2 separate regions of the Homo sapiens genome follow, and region 2 is linked to region 1. Evidence: fine-mapped expression QTL. Tissue or cell type: whole blood. Region 1 holds a variant in brackets; the other region holds the start of a gene. All regions are shown on one strand. Distances are from middle to middle.

Region 1 (9,942 bases):
TGTTCACGTCTCTCCAAAGTTGCTGTATTTCCCCTGGAAAAACGGAAGAAATCCAATATAGCTACCCAAACAAATACCGTAAATGACTTAAGAGGCAGGGACAGAGAGAAGTTAGAGCGGCAATAATTTATATGATAGACTTAAACCCTTCTTCTACTGAGTGGGGCTCATAGCCTCTTGTCTCTCAGTAAAAGCCTATAATAGTTTGAAGCAAAAAGACAACCCTCCCCTCTAAGAAAAGTGGAAGTGAGAAATATGACATATTGGAAAAATGAAAAGGAAACCAGAATGCTCCCCACCTCGTGCAAAAAATCCCTGTTGTCACATGTTGGCTATTATCAAAAGACTACCGTGTGACTAATTTGGAGCTGTGGAGTCAGCCAGTTATGTGTCAAATATTATTTAAAATGCCCATTTGATAAACAGATGATGACTATGTTTGTGAAGAAATCAAGACAGTTGCAAAAGAATTTAAGAATAAATTTTACAAATTTCTATTACTAAATTCTGCCTGGATCTTCACAGGAAGATCCAGGCAAAGCATTCAGTGTGTTTGCAGAACACTCTTAAAGTTGGAGAAGCTGCAGAGAACTTTCGGGTGCAGAGTCTGGCACACTTCCGGGTTTAGTACATTCTCCATGCATTCATCCACTTCAGTTCTGAACCAGAACCCAGTGCCTGCTATGAATGCGCCAAGCACGACGTAAGAAATAGGGGCTACAAACACACAAGTATGACCACTGCTGCAGTGATCCTTGAAACATGCACATGAGTCCCTAAAATGGGTTCCCTTTGCTAGAAGAAAAAAGTCTGAGTTCTTCACCATGTTCTGAAGACCCCACCTAGGTGCATCTGCTGCACATACCACACCCTTCACTCACTCACTCAGCTATTGCCACGCTGATCCTCTATTACCCAACCTCTATGAGACACTTCCTTCCCCTAGGTCTTCACATGGCTGGCATCCTCTGGGGTATATCTAGACACCCCTCTGAAGCAGCTCTTCCTACCCATTCCCAGCCAGGTTAGTCCTCAATGGCCTTACAGGTGCAGAGGGCGAAAAGTCTTACCTTGTTCGCTATGTTTATTGTGTATCGTCCACCAGCAGGTAGGCTCCATGTGGACAGAGTCCTTTTTCTCATTTGGCTGCTCCTGCCCTAGTACCCAGGTATTCAACAATTACTAAGTATTCACTAAGTGAATGAGGATTCTGCCCTCAGTAAATGGTTGTTGAACAAATGAAGGAACTATGGGCACTTTTACCTAAGCAAGTTGTCAGTGACACATGTACTGAAACAACAGAAAGATATCATCAGACCAGCAAAGTTTCAGATGCTTTATCCCCAGCCAACCAGCTATCTTTTCTTCGGGGACTGCTGACATGAGTGACTGCTAATGTGATAACCAGTGAGATGAGCTACTCTGGGACAGATGTGCAACCTAACCCCCAAGTGGAGGAGGCGGCTGCAGACGGCTGCAGCTAAGGCCAACTGAGATGCTGAGTGGACAAACGAAAACAACAAAAAAGGCAAACAGACAGAATCGACAGCAAGAGCACTGGACGGAGTGAAACCCCAAAGGGCAAATCTCCTTACCATTCGTAAAAGGAAATTCAAATTAATTTTTAAAAATTCTATCGATATAAACAGATAAGCAAAGAATTAAGAGAATTTGTAGAAAATCTGAGCTAATTCCCGGTAGGTTTTTTAAATTGAGAAACAATTCATATACCACAAAATTCACCTTCTAAAGTATACAATTCGGTGATTTTTAATATATTCATAAAGTTGCGTGATCATCAGCACTATCTTAACTCCAGAACGTGATTGCCCCTAAAGAAACCCTGTACCCATTAGCAGCCACTACTAAATCCCTTCCCATCCTGGTTCCTGGCAACCACGAATCTTCTTTCTATACCGATTTATTTGACTATGCATGACATTTCCCATAAATGAAGTCATCTGTGACCTTTTGTGTCTGGCTTCTTGCACTTGGCACGATGTCTTCTAGGTTCATCCATGTTGTGGCGTGGGTCAGTACTTCCATTTCTTTTTATGGCTAATATTCCACTGTGTGGATAAACCGGATTTTGTTCATCCATTCATTCATCAGTTGATGCACACTTGGGTTGTTTCCAATTTTAGCTATTATGAATAATGCAGTTATCAACTTTCATGTACAGGTTTTTGTGTGAATATATGGTTTCAGTTTTCTTGGGTTTACACGTTGGTGTGAACTTGCTGGTCATGTGATGCCAGCAGGTTTTTAATGGGAAATCTGCCTTCTAAACAGATGCAGTTAAAGAGGAACTAATTTCATCTCACATAAGATATGAGGCAGTAGGCAAAAAAGAAACACAAATCATGCAGCATGGAAAAGGGTAGTACACAATAACAACAGCAGTTAATATGTTGAGCCCCTCCTCTGCACCATGTACCATGCTAGAAAATTTGGACCTGCGGTTTAATCCTCATTCTCACAATAGTCCTGTAGTGTTATCCTCATTATCCTTCTTCTACAGAGGAAGGAATGATTCAGACCCTGGGATGCTAGTCTGCCCACGATTTTACATCCTGAGAGAGCACAGATGTGAAGTTGGCTCATGTGGCCTGCTTGGAGGAGGTAGGAAAGGAGAGGAGACTGCTGGAGCATCCCTAGGAACCATCTATGGTCTAAATTCCTCCTCCAAAGCGGCCCCCATCAAATCAACAACAGTAAACGATATTCTTCTTTCAGAGAACACATAGAGAAGCCAATTCTAAAAGGGAAGAAAGTCCAGTTTGAATAGAGCCTCTATCCCGAGGGCAAGTGAGCAGCAATTCGGAATTTGTGAGAAGTGACTTGCCAGTCCTCTGGTCCCAGAACTGGGGTGAGCTGAAGGTGACCAGAGACTGGGGACAAGTGGCCAGTTAGGAGGCTGTCAGAACAGACTAGGAAAGAAATATGGCCAGTGGGGATGCCAAAGGAAGAGCCGGGAGTGGAGGATGGGGCGGGGGGGCCTCCAGAATGCTTCACAAGCCTGAATGCAGAGGGTGGCCAGCTAACGGTAGGAGGTAAAATCCATGCCACATGTCACCGATGGAAAACAAGTCTGACAGAGGGCTCTCCCCTTCCTATTTGCCTCTTTCCAAGGGCAACTGTGAGTTGCTAGACTTCTCAAATAAGGCCTTAATGGCTTCAATGTTTTATGAACCTCTTACATTTCTTAGAGTCAATAAAGACAAATAATATCATTCAAAAGCACGTGGTGAGCATCTCCCTGATGTCTCCCTGCAGAGGCTGGAATAGTGAATGCTCTGCACACAATGGATACTAAGTGAGCACTGATTGACAGAAGAAATTATATTCCCATTAGAACCACACAGCTGTGTTTTCAATTCTGCTGATTCAATATTTCCCATCAGAAACAGCTTCTGGTCTTTCAGTATGACAACCAGTTTACTCTCGTGCACATCAATGCACAAAGTATATGTAGTTGTCTTTTGTGATCAAAGAGAATGCTGTCCTGCGTAGCAATCTGAGGCACACCAACAATGATTCCAAGAGCAATCCTTTCCTCTCTTTTTCTCAGGCTTGTGGGGATGTTAAATCTAGCAATCAAAGTAAACAGAAGCAAGGCTGGCTCTTCCAGTCATAAAAAAACAAACAAAAAAAGCCAAAGGATATGGGATATATTGGAAACTCAAGGTCAAAAAGGCTCATTAGCCAGGTGTGACCAACTAGACCTCTATGTCCAGCGCAGTAGCCACCAGCCACATGTAGCTATTTAATTAGTTAAATAAGATTGGTCAGGTGCAGTGGCTTTCACCTGTAATCCCAGCACTTTGGGAGGCCAAGTCAGGCCAATTGCTTGAGCTCAGGAACTTGAGATCAGCCTAAACAACATGGTGAGCAGTCTCTACCGGGAAAAAAAAATAGCCGGATGTGGTGGCATGTGCCTGTGGTCCCAGTTACTTGGGAGGCTGAGAAGGGAGGATGGCTTGAGCCCAGAAGGCAGCCTGGGCGACAATGCCAGACCTTGTCTCAAAAAAAAATTAGATAAAAAAATTCAGTTCCTCAGTCACACTAGCCACATTTCAAGTGATCTTCAGTCACATGTGACTAGGGGCACCACATTGGGTAGCACAGGTATAGAATGTCCATCATCATAAGAAATTCTTTTGGACACTGCTAAGCCAGGCCGACTAGGTGGTCAAACGTGATAAAATGATGTGTCTATTCTTTACCCACTGACTGATAACATAGGTTGACTTTTCTGGACAGATACCCTTAAATCAGTTTGTTTTCAGACTGTGGGTTTCACAGATCAGTAAAATCCTTTTCCTAACTTAGGGCTGCCGGGTTTGTGTTTTGTCCAGTAAGATTGCCACCAGATCACCAGGCTGCACGCCCCATCAAGGTAGGTAGGCACTGTGCCCATCTGACTGCTTGCATTAAATCCCCAGCGCCTAACACGCCTGGTTCATAGCGCATGCTCAGCAACTGAGTCAGTGATTATATATGCACACGCACATGCACACACATACATATATCCTTACCTTTTTAATTTGATCTTCAGTGAAAACTGTCACTGGCTGGCACTGGTCTGCTCAAAGATGTGTGGGTTTTATGCACACACACACACAGAGGCTAGAGTGTCACAAAATAAGTCATCTAACATTTTTTGAGAACTTTATATTAATAAACGCTTGTAACAAAATATACCAAACCAGAATGCAGAGTGTAGGTTTCTCTAAACTGACTGTACAAGTCAGAACCAAAAATGCAGGGAGGAGAAACTACCTGTTTGCTTTTCAATGGCACCAGAGTGCCCTCTTGTGGTAAAACATGGTATCTGCATAATCACAATTTCTATTTAAAAAACAAGCGTCTTTATGCTTCTAACAATGCATAAAACCTGTACTCAACTATAAAGCACTCTTGAGAAACAGTCTAAATATGTATCTAAGTAGTTTATATAAAATATGGCAAGTTGTGTTGGTGAAAAAAATAATTAAGATTTGTCACAGGACTATGCGGTGAGGCCACCCACATACCTAGGAAACAGCAAAATACATGAAAGCTGCTCTTGGGATTTGATATTCTAAATAGTTCCTGTTCATCTTCTGGTTAAAAAACAAATGACTTTCAAGTTCAAGGTGGTGTCATACAGTTTATTCCTTCCTTTGTCCAACATCAACAATAACCTTTGCTGCCTCCAACTCCTTCTTTCACTTTCATCTTAATAGCCCTTTTCTGGGGGGGAGGAGGGCTTCCTCATATAAACCATTCTTTCAAAGTCTGTTTTGGTTGTTTCTTTTTACACTTTACAAGCAGTGACAAATTATGTCCACAATGAGTTCTCAATTAAAAGATGAAAATGTGACCTTGATCATTTTAGAGTTTTTGCAAATTTCAACTTGATATTCTATGGCCTTCCAAGGGCAAAAGACATCTTTATTGATCAATTTCTGCTGAGACAGAACTCTCCAGTTCTACTGATTTAACGACGTGGAATATTTCTTCAAGTGACAGTAGAAAAAGCTGATTTACCCATGATGATTCTATTAAGTGTGGTCTCTGTCAATAGAGAAGAATCACTATTTGAATGAGACCTCAAGATGCTTACAAATTCTAAATCAACACCCCAATCTGAGGGTTCAGAGGAAGAATCATTAAAAGGTAGTATCCGATTACAACTAACCCCTAGCCTCTGATTCTCCTGGGTATTTGTTTAAAATGTAGGTTATTCCTTGGATCTACTTAAGACTTTAAACCACATCTCTCTGGAGCTTGGTAATGAGCATTTTTATTAAATTCCCCAAGTACAAGCCCCGGTGTACACAATAAGCAATTTCAGTTTTGAGTAACTGCCAGGGAAGGAATGTCCCCCTTTCTGTTTGTTGACTGCCTTCTGATTTGTTTGAAAGCTTTTTTCTTCTTGCATTATCTTGACCATTCCTGGTATGAAGGATGTTGTCTTGTTTCTCCTCAGTTTCATCTTCTGCAGAAGAAGAAACCATGCCAGGCGGCAGTCTCTTACTGTTCATGGCTTCCATGGCTTTACTCTGTTCCCTTTTTCTCTCACAAGTCATCAGCTCAGATCTAAAAATACTCTAAGGGTAAATCCACTGGTGAATAAAATGGTTCCAATGTGCCATATTCCTTTCTTTAGAAAGCAAGAATTACCTCCATATATGAATCTAAAGAATCAATTGTTATCTATGCTAGAAAAATAAAGACCATTAATAAGTGCAATATTGAAATGGGTGAACATCAATTTAGAGACAAGTACTAAACTAGCAAAGTTTTTGCTAGGTTTCCTCCAGAACATAATACCATTTATAGACCTTCTAGGACAAACCATCTTTTATTGACATTAACAGAAGAAGATAATCACATTTTTTATAAAGGCAGGCAAGGTTTTCATTATAAGCTGTTCTATAGTATTTGTATATGTGGTTTTTAACCTTGTGCATATGCTACTTTGATTTCTTCGACAGCTGAGAATGAAGGAGAAAAACCTCATATCTAGATCAATGTCTTATATTTTATTTCCAACATTTTGGACTAATTTTGAAGTAAGAGCAAATAAAGTTTCACATTTGCTGAGTATTTGTTATGTACAAAGTGTTACTTTAAAGGTACTACTGGATATGCACTCATTCAAAAAGCTGGAATATGTTCCACAAAGATTGGTTCCACAAATATCTTTTGTTCCACGAAGATTTCAAAGTGTGGAATGTGTTCCACAAAGATTTTCTGCTGAAGAGCAACTTCAGCAGGGTAGTAAAGAGGTAGAAAAATCTCCTAGGTTGAATAACTGAGGCTACTGAAATTGGCATGCAAACAACTAGACACATTATCTAACCCATCATAGATGAAATGTTCTGGACTCTGGGTTCCTGCCAAATATAATAGCAACACAGGCCAGGCGTGGTGGCTTATGCCTGTAACACCAGCACTTTGGGAGGCTGAGGCGGGAGGATCCCTTGAGCTCAGGAGTTCGAGACCAGCCCGGGCAACATAGTGAGACCTCATCTGTGCTAAAATTTAAAAAATTGGCCAGGCGTGGTAGCACGCACCTGTAGGCCCAGCTACTTGGGGGCTGAGGTGGGAGGATTGCTTGAGCCCAGGAAATCGAGGGTGAGGCTGCAGTAAGCCCTGATCATGCCACTGCACTCTAGCCTGGGTGACAGAGCAAGACCTTGTCTCAAAAACAAAACAAAACAAAACAAAACAAAAATAGCAACACAAGTTAACATCTGATTCTCCATACCGAATAT[C/A]TTTCCTATACCATTGTCCATCTCGGACTCAGGTTAAGCAATGTGTCTGGCTCATTCACACAACAGTTGAGTGTGGGGCGGGAAGTGTGACAACCAGCAGTCAAAAATCTTAGGTTCAAATTCTGACTGGCTCAAGATTTGTGACTCAACAAAGAATTCACTTAACTTCTTTCACCTGAAGTCTCCATACATGAAAATGGGGACCGCCAGTACTCCCTCCATGAACAACACGGGGAGGGGCCGGGAGGATGATGTGGATGTGAATGATCCCTGACAGACACTCAGTAAATGTTTAATGAGTCTGTTATCTAAGCACTATCCTCAAGGAGAACCAGCAGACTCCTCGGGAAGGTAAGTGGCTTGGGACAGTCCCTTTCCAGGAATGGTGACCGCCACCAACAATATCAATAATCCAGCACAGACTGGAGCTCAGTGACACAAACTGCTCTGTTGTTATGTTAGACACAATGACTTCCTTCTAACCCTCAGACTCTACAATGATGTGGATCTGGATTTTCCCAAATTAAACACAGTGAAAAGGAACTACCTGTGTTCCCCAAGGGCTAAGTACCTGCATCAACCTCTCACCATGCACCACTCGCAGCACTTTCTGTGCACGTGGGGTCACACTGACTCACCCCAACATCCCTAATGCGGTGGGCACTCTAATCATGCCCATTTTACAGAGGAGGGACTGGAACTCGGAGACCACTCTGCCCAGGACCACACAGCTCGTCAGCAGCAGAGCTGGGGCCTGGCCTCAGAGCACATGCTCAGCCACTCTGCTATAATTTCTCTGGTGGAAATCACAGTGAAAGTCCCGTCGTTTCAGACATATGCTGGGATTCTAAACCTTATGCAGTCTGTACCTACTCTCATGAGAACAACAGTAAAGTCTAAATAAAACCTTAAAAGTCACTGTGTGGCTGAGCTTCAGGTTAGTGACATGTTTTTCTTAAAAGTCAATTTAATGTCAAAACATGCCCCCCCATGATAGAGAGAGTAGCGCCACGTTACAGATACTAAGACTCAAAGAACATGTGCAAAAGACAAAGAACCAAAATTTTCTGATAGCAAAATCTTTCACAGCTTCCTCTTGTCCAAAGAAAAACTGAAGATAAATCCACACTCCAAACATGTCTTTAGTTTAGAATTCTGACAGATGACTTGGCAGTGAGTGTCAAAAACTTAAGTGTACATAACCTATGACCCTACAAATTCCACTTCTCAGATCTTACAGAAATACTAATACAAGTATACAAAGAAATCTGTGCAAGGATGCTGACTGCAGCAGTGTTTGTTAAGAGCAAAAACTAAAAACAAGCAGACTATCCATCCACTCGGCTAAACACATGATGACAGACACTCAATGGAACGCCACGCAGCCAGTTAAAAGAATGAGGTAGCTCCAGCTTCACTGACACAAAGGATTCTCTTAGATATACTCTTAAGCAAAAAAGCAAGTGACAGGATGTGTGTGGTATAATCCTATTTTATTAAAAATAAACTGTGTGTGTGTATACGTGTGTGTGTGTGAGACAGAGATGTAAAGACATAGAAAAGGGCCTAGAAAAATACATAAACTTCCCTTGGGAGGTGGAAATTGAGGGAGGGGGTCTCTCATGTTCTACATTGTGGATGTCTGTATTTGCTTGAAATTATTTATGAAATAATATAATATTTTGAAACAAAAGATTTTGGAGGCTAATTTTCTAAAGGGAATAGCATAGCTTAGATATGCCCCTAAACTGAAATGTAAACTTTTTTCCCATTTGCAAACCTGTGAGTACGTAGTAAGAGAAACATTGCCACAAAATCCTCTTTTAAAAGCTCTTTCAGGACACTAAATTAAGTCATTCATTTCTGAGATTTTAAAGGCCAACAATGTCTCTATTTTCAGACTATGTCACAAATGACATAAATGCCAAAATTATAGATCTTAAGAAGACAACACATAAAATACAGACTTAGACAAAACAAATGACTAAAGCTGCATAGTTCTGCTAGACTTTATTCAAAACTGGCTCTATTCTTAATTATTTGAGAGACCTAAAATTCTAGTGTTCAAATGTAAATACCCATCATATACTGAAAAGTCATCTTCAAATTTGTGTTCTGACCCAAATTTGGCTCAATTAAATCATACGAAAGTCAGACAACACAAATGGTTACACCTCAGCATATAACAAAATCCTGGAAGCAGCATAGCAAGTGAGCTATGACATCATTTAACTCTCAAACAGAACTGTAATCTTAAGTTACACACACCACAATACACCTTTGCACAGGTAATTTTATTCTCTCCTGTGGGTGTTGACAGTGCTCATTGATTGAAATTTGAAACGTTCAGAAATCCCATACCTGAAGATGGTCACATATTCTTTACATCATGATTCAGTAACTATTCAACAGTTATGTCTACTAAATACAGTGAACAAAACAGTATAAATGTTTACACCATTCCCCTGTGAACAGGGCTTTTGTGCACAATAGTAACAAATGGAATTAATGCATACCATGATATCAATAAGGAAGAGACCTTCTCTTTAAATAAACTATTTTGTTTATAAATAAACTCTGATTTTTTTAGTACACATTTACAGACCTGATCAATAAAAAGAAACTATATATATATATTTTTTCCTTTAAAAAGAAAATGTTGAGATACAGACCACTG
Region 2 (11,056 bases), 52 kb after region 1:
ATGGAAGGGAAAAAAGTGGGAGGAAAGGAGAAAAAAAAAAAACCCTAGATCCAAAGCTATGGGACTGTTAATTTTATTTACTTTATCTCCCACTTCTGAGAGTTTGAAGGCTATGGATTATTTTCCTACCACAATTGATTTGCATATAAAGACAATAAAACAATAACTATTACAACATAAAAGGTGAGGGGGGGTTGGTTATAAGCCTGAACAAGACATCTGCTGGCACTGCTTCTGTGAATGGAAGGTATGGGATTGACCCAAGATAGGGGCAACCACAGAAAACAGTACCGCACTCCACTAAGTGCTCCGACACTTAACTGATTTCAATGCTTTCAAGAAAACCAAACCGTGGTCTCTGAAATGCAATCACCTTTCACAGTAAATTAAATTTCACAATAAATTAAGCCTAGAAGGTGGTCTCCATGCAAAACAACTTCCTTTTCAGTACTTGAAAATACCAAGTTTACTAAAGCAGCTTATTTTAAGAAGCACAAGAAGGCATACCTCAGCTATCAGTGAAATATCACATAGCCTTCCAAATGTGCACATCAACTTTTAACAGAATTGATCTGTGCGAAACATTTACCACAATCCACTCAGTTAAAAAGTTGCCACATCCTACCCTAGAAATCACTAACACCATACATATAAAAAGTAAAAATAACTGCTTCCTCTTTGAATGTAAAAATTCTATCCTTCGAAACAGAAGCATCTTAATTGGGATTGTGGGAGGGGCTTGCTCATAATACAACTTGTTTAAACATTTTCAGTAACTAGAAGGGGGATTTTACCTTTCAAGGAATACGTCCATGATTCATACGAAATGAGATTTTAAAACTGTCAGAAAATATGCCTTTTTATTTTTTTTGGAGACGGAGTCTCACTCTGTTGCCCAGGCTGGAGTGCACTGGCGCGATCTCGGCTCACTGTAACTTCTGCCTCCTGGGTTTAAGCGATTCTTCTGCCTCAGCCTCCTGAGTAGCCGGGATTATAGGCACGAGCCACCATGCCCAGCTATTTTTTGTATTTTCAGTAGAGACAGGGTTTCACCATGTTGGCCAGGCTGGTCTTGAACTCCTGACATCAAGTGATCCGCCCGCCCTTTGCCTCCGCTTCCCAAAGTGCTGGGATTACAGGCGTGAGCCACCACACCCAGCCCCGCCTTTCTTAAATAAATCTTAAATATTCCGTGTTTTGTTTTCAATGGAAACAATACCCATAAATGCTCTATAATCCTATTAAAACTACCATAATTTCTTGCCATAAATATACTTAAATATGAAAGGCAATTTAATCTTTATTAGACTCATTTTATCAACTACAATTTTTTTATTCCACATTTGCCTAGAAAGCAATCTGTAAAAGCAAAGCCTTACTTTCACACAGATACCTATCACAAAAACTGGAAACACACTGTGACATTGTGGAGTGGGGGCTGGGGATGTAATACATAATACAATGTTGGAAAATTTCTAGTAACTTCTGGTAAAGCTACTGAATTGGCAGACATGGCCAGGAGGGCCCTGTCGTACACCCATTACTGCAAGTAATCACCAAAACCTTCTCAGCTTCTAGAGACTCCTCCTCTGCACAGGCAACTCAGCGGTGACCCAGTGGGCAAATAATTCCTTCCATGCCAGGGGATTCCCTGAATCTACACTCATGGCTCCCAAAACATGACTTCCCTTTTCTTCATGGCTGGCAATTTATAATAGTGACTGGACCACGGTACCACATTCTGCTAGAAGGTGCTGATATCTCCAATACAATGTATTTTGGCCTGAAATTCACCAACTTAAAGACTTTAAGATTAGTTTTCTCCAACTCATGACCCTAAGTAAGCTTGAGATTCTGTTTACTGGTAACAACTATCACTGAATATGTACCACATGTTGTGCCCAGTGATAAGCACTTGCATCTACTAAAGCAATTTTGTATTTAATTCCCTCACAAGATGTGTTATCACCACCCCCACTTGCAAATGAGGGAACAGCTGGTGAAATTAGTTGCCCAAAGACATTTAGTGACTACATTTTATTGGGATTAAGGGGACTCTATTTGAGTTATTCATGCAGTTTTACAAAAGACAAGTGCCTCAAAGAAATATTAGGATATAGTTTCAGTAATTTTACACTAAAGGAGTTACATTAAAACATCAAACACTAGATTTTAAATTACTTGAATTCCATTATATGCAGTTTATTAAAATATTACTTTTAACCTCTGTAACCTCAACATCTTAATATTTGTCCAACAAATAAACTGACACCACATGCATGTTTTGCACCAAATGGTGCCTCTCTCCTCCAGGAGGAGTCTGGAAATGTATGGGAGCATTTTGGGTTGTCCCAATGTGGAGATCGCTAATCAGCATTTAGTGGGTAGGGGCGAAACAGACCTCCAAACTGCCAATAGCACCCACATAGAAACACTAAACTATGGGCTGATTCAAAAGGAAAACCTTTCATGGTAAAGTTAAACCACCTGTTAACACGCCTTAATTTACAACTTCCTATTCATTGATAGTCTGTTTAAAATATCTTAGAAGATCCATCGATCCCTTTCTATAAAACATCACTTACCTAGCATTTTATTTTCAAATACACACACATACTCACACAGACACACACACACACACCCCACATTTTAGATATACAGTTAATACTCTTTTATCCCCGATGTAACCAAAGCACTTCTCCTCCACTGCCTACCTGGCTCATTTTTTAACTCAATAAATGCATAGTAACCAAAGCACCTCTCCTCCACTGCCTACCTGGCTCATTTTTTTAACTCAATAAACGCATAGTACATTTGCACATGGTATAATCTTAGAAGTAGATGTCCTGCTGGATAAAAAATTTTGTTTCAGCATCAAGAATATAGTTTGAAATTTCTAGTTCCAAGAATCACTCATGTCAATAGGAAATTTTAGACTGCCTTGGTTCACTGCCTAAGCGTCCCAAGGGCACTATGCTAATGTTTATACTATGTCTGTCTTTAAAAATTGATGAAAAATGGAAATCTAACATGAATTAATTTATAAATGATATATAATTCCACACCCAAAGAGTGAAAAAGATGTAACCTGTAGACAGATTTAAATATGTACAAGAGCAAAATTTTAAGTAGGAGGTACTCAGTCAAAACTGTAGTACTCCTAAGCAGAACCAAGTTCAAAAGAAGACTTGCTGCTTAGGGACGGGTAAACTACATGGAGACCTTTGGCAAAGGTTTACTTTGGCATTCCAGTTGGCCAATGGTATTATCTCGTGAGTTGTGGAAATAATCACAAAATCAGATTTTTGAAGCCCTGAAGTTTCTTTTTAGGTTGAAAAAACTAATGTACATGAGGCTCCTAAGACTAATATACCAAAAAAATAAAAATGAGTATTTTGTGCCAAGTTTTAAAAGCTGAATTACACTATCTAGCTCTCAGCATTTAGTTAGATCCTGAGTACTGTTTCTTTAGATTTTATCTAGTCCCTACAAGGTATACCAAAAGAGAAAAAGATCCAGGACTTCTGAGACAGAACCCTGAGGCTCAGTCTTCAGCATAATTTGAGACTCACTTTTTGCCAAAGAACTGTGATTGACAACCTGAGCACTTTCAGTTCACCTTATTGTTCATTATTTCCTCCAGATGAACTGTAAATTGAACAGCTCTATCCAAGATTATAGATAAGACATAGCCCACCACTGCCAATTCCTTTGAAGCTGTTCTACTAGAAAAAGTTCATCAAAAGTGCTGACTCTTCAGGGAGAAGTTCCCCCCCCCCAAAAAAAAATGCTGAATCAAAGACTACTGTGCACTTCAAAAAACTCGCCCTTTTCTCTAGATGTGACTGTGGTTAGTACTGTGTAGGTAATCAGCAGGAATACATCAGCAGTCAGAAAACTGTGGCAGTTACTCCGGACTCAGCCAAATCACTTTACGTGTTTCTCTAGCTCCAGGTTCCCATCTATACAATGAATAGCATTTTCATCCACTGTCTTTCAAAGAACTGTGAGAACAAAATAAATATGAAAGTGATCCCTCCCTGTAACTATATTTCAATAAAAGATATTCTGAAATAGATGACCTTACAAAAGGATAAATTTGAAAAGCCAAAACAAATTTTTGCAAAAGAGCCTCTGCTATGTACTTCAGGACTGCCTCGAGGGTAGTTACGACTACCCTGTGAAGGGTACAAATAGAATCGAATCATTCTTTCCCTTCCCCAAGTCCTGAACCCTCTAAAAGTGAATACAGTTAAACATTCTGAAGTCCTCAGTGGAGAGAGAAGGTATCTTGTCTTCAAATCCTTCAGTGGATTACAACAATGTTCCCCTGAGCGGGTCTCCCCTCATTCACTTTTGCCACCCTCCACATTATCTCCCCCCCACCAAAAAAAAAAAAAAAAAGCCACAACCTGTCTCAATCCACTGCCTGTAATCTTCACTGGCTTCCCTCTGTTTTTAGAATAAAAGCTCTGCTTGGCGTGACCCCAGCTTTCTCCACCTGCCTCTCTCCCTCCCCGTTTCAGCCATGCTAGCCTTTCAAAAAGGCTGAAAAGCTTTCTTCCTCTTCACATTTCAGGGCCTTGACATACGCTGTTGCTTCAGCCTGAAATGTTCCTTTTTCGTTTTTCAGAGACAGGGTCTAGCTCTGTTTCCCAGGAGGGAGTGCAGTGGCATGATCACAGCTCACTGCAGCCTCGAACTACTGGGCTCAAATGATCCTCTCGCCTCAGCCTCCCGAGCAGCTAGGACTACAAGCACACACCACCACTCCCAGCTAGTTATTTTTTTATTTTTGGTAGAGACGGTGGTCTCACTATGTTGCCCAGGCTGGTCCTGAACTCCTGGCCTCAGGCAATCCTCCCACCTCAGCCTCCCAAAATGTTGGGATTATAGTCACGAGCCACCCTGCCAGGCCTGGAATGTTCTTTTCACTCACACCTTCACATTCCCTTTTCAGTCTCTTTTCAGATCTCAGGTCAAAAGTCATACCCTCTCAGAGCGAGAGGGTATGAAGAATATAAATAAAATTGTTTTAATCTTTAAAAAGTCATATTCTTAGCAATGCCTTTTTAAAATCTTCCATAATACACATGCCCCTACTACACTCTTTCATACCACTGTTATTCCTTCAAAGCACATTTCACGCTTGCTTGATTTTTAAAATCCATCCCCTCTGCTTGCCTGTAAGCTCTATAAAGACAATTTTCTAAACCCTACCATCAGCACTGTACCTGCATACAGCATGTATTCAGTACACATTATTTGCATGAATAAGTAAACGACTACCATTCAAAAGTCCTCGTTACCTGACTCCCAACTTTCTTTCCCACTTCTCCGCAGTGCAATCCACTGTAAAAGCTACTTCTGACTCCACCAGAAGCATTCCCTACCCCCATCTTCAGGCTTTCAAATCCTGTGGCTTTCCCTGCCTGTAAAATTATCCCCATTTCTCTCAACCTGTTCAAATCCTGAGGGCTTGCCAAGACTCAAGTTTTCTTTCCTCCAGAATATCTTCCCATAGTGCCAGTTTACACATGTGTCGTTGCTCCACACTTTCAAAGCACTTCGCATTCTCTTTTTGGTAAGTATACATAAACTGCATCGTATTTTAACGTGTCCTGTGTGTAGACTTTTCTCTCCAACGTTAGTGCTAACTCCTAAGGATAGACTGTTCACATCCCACCCGTTCCATTCCCAGAGCGGCGCTAAGTACTGGGCTCGCACTGAAGCATGTGATTTTTCCCTAACATACCAGAATTTTCCTCTGAAAAGAATACTAGCTTCCCCCTTACTCCTGTTTCTCAAGTGATTCAATATGCCTTATGTGACTCTCACCAAGTTCTTTTCTAGGGGTTTGTTTTGTTTTGTTCTGTTTTGTTTGCCTACCCTCCCCCATTCTACTAAAAAATAGTTGAGTTCTCTGGATTCCTGTTCTTTCTCATTCCTAGAGGGACCTTGTGTACTCTGTGAGGGTTCCTTGCCTGCAGTTAGGGGCTCCTAGGCCTTTAAACTGTCATCCCACCACCCCCGACCCCCGACACCCGCGCCCCCCCCAACACACACCCAGTGAAGGCACTTGCGCTAGCTGTGACCTCACACACACCACTCCATAGCCTCACCTGGACCTATCACTTCATTCCCCTCAATCAATCAGGCGGCGTGCATTCCTACCCAAGAAGAAAGATCCCAGACCGCTGTATCTCTCCTTTCTGCCTGTCATTAACTACCCACGAGAGCTCTTTCTCTTTTTCCCTCCTTCTCTTCCTTAGAGACGGAACCTAGGCCCAAGACGGTGAATTGGCGCCGAGAAACCAGACACAGCCACCCAGCCAGCTCCAGCTCCAACGCCACGGTCTCTGCCCCCGCACCCACCCGCGTCCCTCCCAGGCAGCGACCGGAGCTCATGCTTCGGCCTGACCAGGACTCCCCATCCGGGGAGAGCCATCGCTCACTGACCCAGGAAGGTGTCAAACGAGGAAGTAGCAGCAGTAACAGGTACCGAGGCAGACAGCCTAGCGGACGCTATCGGCTCAGCGATCCATCCCTTCCCGACCTAAGCTCCGGCCTCACGGCTTCCTCTACCCAAGCGAACACAGAACAAGTCACGTGCCAGCCCAGCAGTCAGCTGACCGCGGCGCGCGCTGCTCCGCCTACGCCCGCGCCACTGCGCAGCCGCAGCCGCTGCCACTGCCGGGCCTTGGGAGAGGGGCGGGACTAGGAGGCTACGGGGCGGCAAGGGGACCCTATATTCGGGGCTGATCGCTGTTGTTCCAGAGTGGGTGGGGTTTTCCGCTTCTTCCAGTGTTGCAAGTGGCGTTTTGTCCACCACTTGTAAACGTCAGCGCCACTGCAGGTTTCTGCGGGTCAGAAATTGTCTCCAACCCCCTACAAGGGCTTCTCCACTTGGGGTTTTCTTCGTCAGCTGGGTTTTCTACCTAGTATACTGGCTAGTAGTTCATTTTAGCAGATTCACATTTTCCTGAAGTCCACTTAGACTTAATTTCATAAATGGTCCATGGAGCATTTACTGTGCGCCAAGCACTGCGCTCGTTCTTAGGATTGCCTACTGGAGAGAATCACTCCTTGCCACGAAAGCGCCTCATAGATAGTTGAAACCACATTAGATAGTGGGAAACCAAAGGTTTTAGGACAGAGGCATAGACAGGGGAAAGCATCTCCTTTGGAGAAAAATAGGTAACAAGCTCCTCCCAGGAACCCTGCTTATTTCATTAGCTTGGGGAGATAGATAGTAATGTCCTAATTTAGAACACAGAGTTTTAGAAGTAGTAGAAATTTTGAGATGTTCTAATTTAATCCTTTTAGATCTACAGATGAAGAAAGTGAGGGCACGGAGTTGTTCAGCGCAAGGGAATAGATACCAGGTGTTGAATCCAGGCTCTCCTACTTACTAGTTGTGTGACCTTACTCCTCTGAATTTCAGCCTGTTCACATGCAAAGTGGTGGTAATAATACCTTACACAGGTATTGTGAGGATTAAATGAAGCCTGTGGTTAGCACAGTGCCTGGTACATAGGAAACAACCAGTAAATGGTCGTCATTATTACTATGTATTATAGGACCCAGGTTTTCTGACCTATACTATGCCTTTTCTGCTGTGTCCCCCTACAGAAATTCACCACAGAATTTCTCAGAGCCTCAGTATTAGGTTGGACAGAAAGTAACAACCACCAGACTATCCCCAACCTGACGCTTTCACCAGTTTTGGATGAAGTTCATGCAATTACAATAACCAGTTCTATAACATGGCTTCAGAAACTTATCAGAATTCCAGAGGCTTTTATCTGCCATCACGAAATGAGCCTAAAGGCATTTTTTTTTTGGTTAGGTCCACTAAAACTTTCTGCCATGATGCAAATGTTATCCTGTGCTGTCTGTACAGTACCCACTAGCTACATGGAGCCATTGAGCACTTGAAATATGGTTAGTGTGACTTAGTAACTGAATTTTAAAATTTATTTCACTTTAATTAAAATTTAAATAGCCACATGAGACCAGTGACAACAGCCTTAGACAGTGCAGTTTTAAGGTCCATGCTTGAACTATCTTGGTTTCTTCGTGCTTGTGTGTGGTCCTGAGGCAGACTTTTTGTCTTGGATTCTTAATTTCTAAACTGAATTATACCTCGCGCAACTTTCCAACATTTGGGGTTTTTTTTTTAGTTTTGGGGTTTTTTTTGAGATGGAGTCTCGCCCTGTCGCCCAGGTTGGAGAGCAGTGGTGCGATCTCAGCTCACTGCAAACTCCACCTCCCGGGTTCAAGCGATTCTTGTGCCTTGCCCTCCTAAGTAGCTGGGACTACAGGCGTGCACCATCACACCCAACTAATTTTTGTATTTTTAGTAGAGACGGGTTTTCCTCATGTTGGCCAAGCTGGTCTCCAAGTCCTGAGGTCAAGTGATCTGCCCACTTGGCCCTCCCAAAGTGCTGGGATTACAGGGGTGAGCCATCGTGCCTGGCCTCCAGTGTTTTAATTACCATGTTATACTTGGGAGGCAGTACAACAGAGTGTTCAATAAATGTTAGCTCTAATTTTTATGAGGTTTAATGTATCTCACTTAAAAATTTAGGAAACATAGCTGGGCATGGTGGTGCATGCCTATAGTCCCAGCTACTCGGGAGGCTGAGGTGGGAGGACCCCTTGAGCCCAGGAGTTCGAGGCTGCAGTGAGCTAAAATTGCACCATACACTCCAGCCTGGGCAACAGAGCAAGACCCCATCTCAAAAAATCAAATAAAAATCTAGCAAAGATGTTTAATATAAGCAGGGCATGATTGCTCTCCAGTGGTTTCTAATAGTAAAGTAATATGTTTTTACAGAGAAGCAACTCACTTTTTAAAAACTGTACTATGCATAGAAGCATACTAGGTAGCCATGGGCATGTCACACCTTTTCCTCCATTTCCACCTATCTAAAGACTACTCATCTCCAAACATCTAAGTTTAAAGCACTCCTAAGATGCATGGGAGAAGATTTATTTTTTTCTTACAACTTTTTCCGGGGAAAAAATTTATTTTTTCCTTTATTAAAATATTGAGCTTATTTCAGTTACATATTTTTGTCTTCCCACCATTTCCATTTGTCTGACCACAGCTACTACTATGTCCTATCATAATATTCCATACATACATATATACTGAAAACCAAGCAAAGAGCCAGGCGTGGTGGCTCACACCTGTAATCCCAGCACTTTGGGAGGCTGAGGTGGGCAGATCACTTGAGGCCAGGAGTTTGACACCTTCCTGACCAACATGGCAAAATGCCATCTCTACTAAAAATACAAAAATTAGCTGGGTGTGGTGGTGCATGCCTGTAATCCCAGCTGCTTGGGAGGCTGAGGCAGGAGAATTGCTTGAGCCTGGGAGCCAGAGGCTGCAGTGAGCCAAGATAGTGCCACTGCCCTCCAGCCTGAGTGACAGAGCAAGACTCTGTCTCAAAAAAAAAAACAAGCAAACGATGGAGTTTCATCTTTAAAAACTACAGGGGCATTTTGGACAACACATTTTTGGCAATGGAACCTGGACAATATTTATCCAACGTGCTAGGGAACTTCTCACTCTGAATTGTAAAAAGGACAGTTAGATATCAACTGTTACAGAAATGAAATGACAGATAATTTTTTTCTCTAAAAGAACTATTAACGAAATGACAGGTAATTTTTTTCTCTAAAAGAACTATTGGGTTAAAAGATTTAAAAAAAAAAAGAAGAAAGAAAATTTTAACAAGCTGTTTAAACTATTTTTTTTTTTTTTTGAGACAGAGTCTCACTCTGTTGCCCATGCTGGAATGCAATGGCGTGATCTCTGCTCACTGCAACCTCTGCCTCCCAGGTTCAAGCGATTCTCCTGTCTCAGCCTCCCAAGTAGCTGGGAATACAGGCATCCACCACCACGCCTGGCAAATTTTTTGTATTTTTATTTATTTATTTATTTATTTTTGGAGAGACAAGGTTTCACCATGTTGGCCAGGCTGGTTTTGAACTCCTGACCTCAAGTGATCTGCCCACCTTGGCCTCCCAAAGTGCTAGGGTTACAGGCATGAGCCACCACGCTTGGCCTAAACTGTGTTCTTAAAGAGACTTCTTCCACTGCCAGAGATGGTGAATAGCCTCCTAGTTGGTCATCCAGAAGTAATTCTTCACATAATTGATGCACTTAGCTTTGGGAAGAGAACCAACTTTTTCTATACTTGCTTGCATTTTTGCTTTTAATATATTCTACAAAACTAGGTCCTTTTGGTGTTTTAAGAGGTTTTTTCCCCCTGTTTTTGAAGGATTCTTGACCTTTTGGTCTTAATCTTGATAGTTCTGAGTCTTTTTTATTTTGGTTTGATCTTTGTGCATTTTTTGGATGGAGTATCCTGTATAAATTTCATCACTAGAGCTTTTTCTTCAGTTTTCCCTTCATCAAAATGTTCTTCCTCTTCATCATCATCATGATTTTCATCAGCAAGAAGTTTTATTTTTTTCTTGTAGAAATGTACCCACTTCCAGGGGCAGATCACTTTCCAGATATACTGAAAAGTCTCACATCTCCCTCCTCTTCATGTCCTGCTTTGTATCTTCCTTCATACCTGTTAAGTGCTGTGTACTCATATGCCCAGGCCCTGAAACACACTGAGTGTAAGGCCACAGGCAATGTTATTTCAAAGCCCCCAAGATAAACCATTGACTGTACATACCTTTTTAAAGTTGCTAGTATTACTTTAATTGGACTGCCTTCATAGTTCATTACTTCTGCTTCAACAATATAAAATCCATCCTTTCTACCAGCCCCTAAACTGACCATTCTTAAAGATAACTTGTGCTCATTTTCATCATTATCCACCTTAAAGTGATAATCTTTGTTGGCCTCTAGTCACAACCAAAAAGATAGTTCTGGGGCCTCAGGAGGCTGATGTCCATGTCCGTCAAATCTTCCATGGGTGGCGGCAAGCACTTAGGTAGGAGAGAAGCCAGGCAGAGGTAAACAACCACGCTCCAGAGAACAGCTGTGCAGGATGGAATCATACCAGCAACCAATTATTTTGTTTTTTGA

Evidence for each region. PIP is the estimated chance that this variant, and not a neighbour inherited with it, causes the effect.
Region 2: it holds the start of ATP6V1C1, and the variant in region 1 is fine-mapped to the expression of ATP6V1C1 in whole blood (TOPMed, PIP above 0.99).

The regions. Positions count from the first base shown.
Region 1 is chr8:103,068,882-103,078,823 of GRCh38, reverse strand. ATP6V1C1 (ATPase H+ transporting V1 subunit C1) reads right to left here. Exons shown (of 13, transcript NM_001695.5): 13 at 5,773-9,942. Among named protein-coding and RNA genes, the nearest start is that of LINC01181, 47 kb to the left of the region's middle. RefSeq lists an enhancer at 118-287. The variant C/A (reference allele first, on the strand shown) is at 7,266.
Region 2 is chr8:103,016,629-103,027,684 of GRCh38, reverse strand. It overlaps ATP6V1C1 (ATPase H+ transporting V1 subunit C1), which reads right to left and starts at 6,602. Exons shown (of 13, transcript NM_001695.5): 1 at 6,460-6,602. It also overlaps the pseudogene NPM1P52. RefSeq lists an enhancer at 6,163-6,372.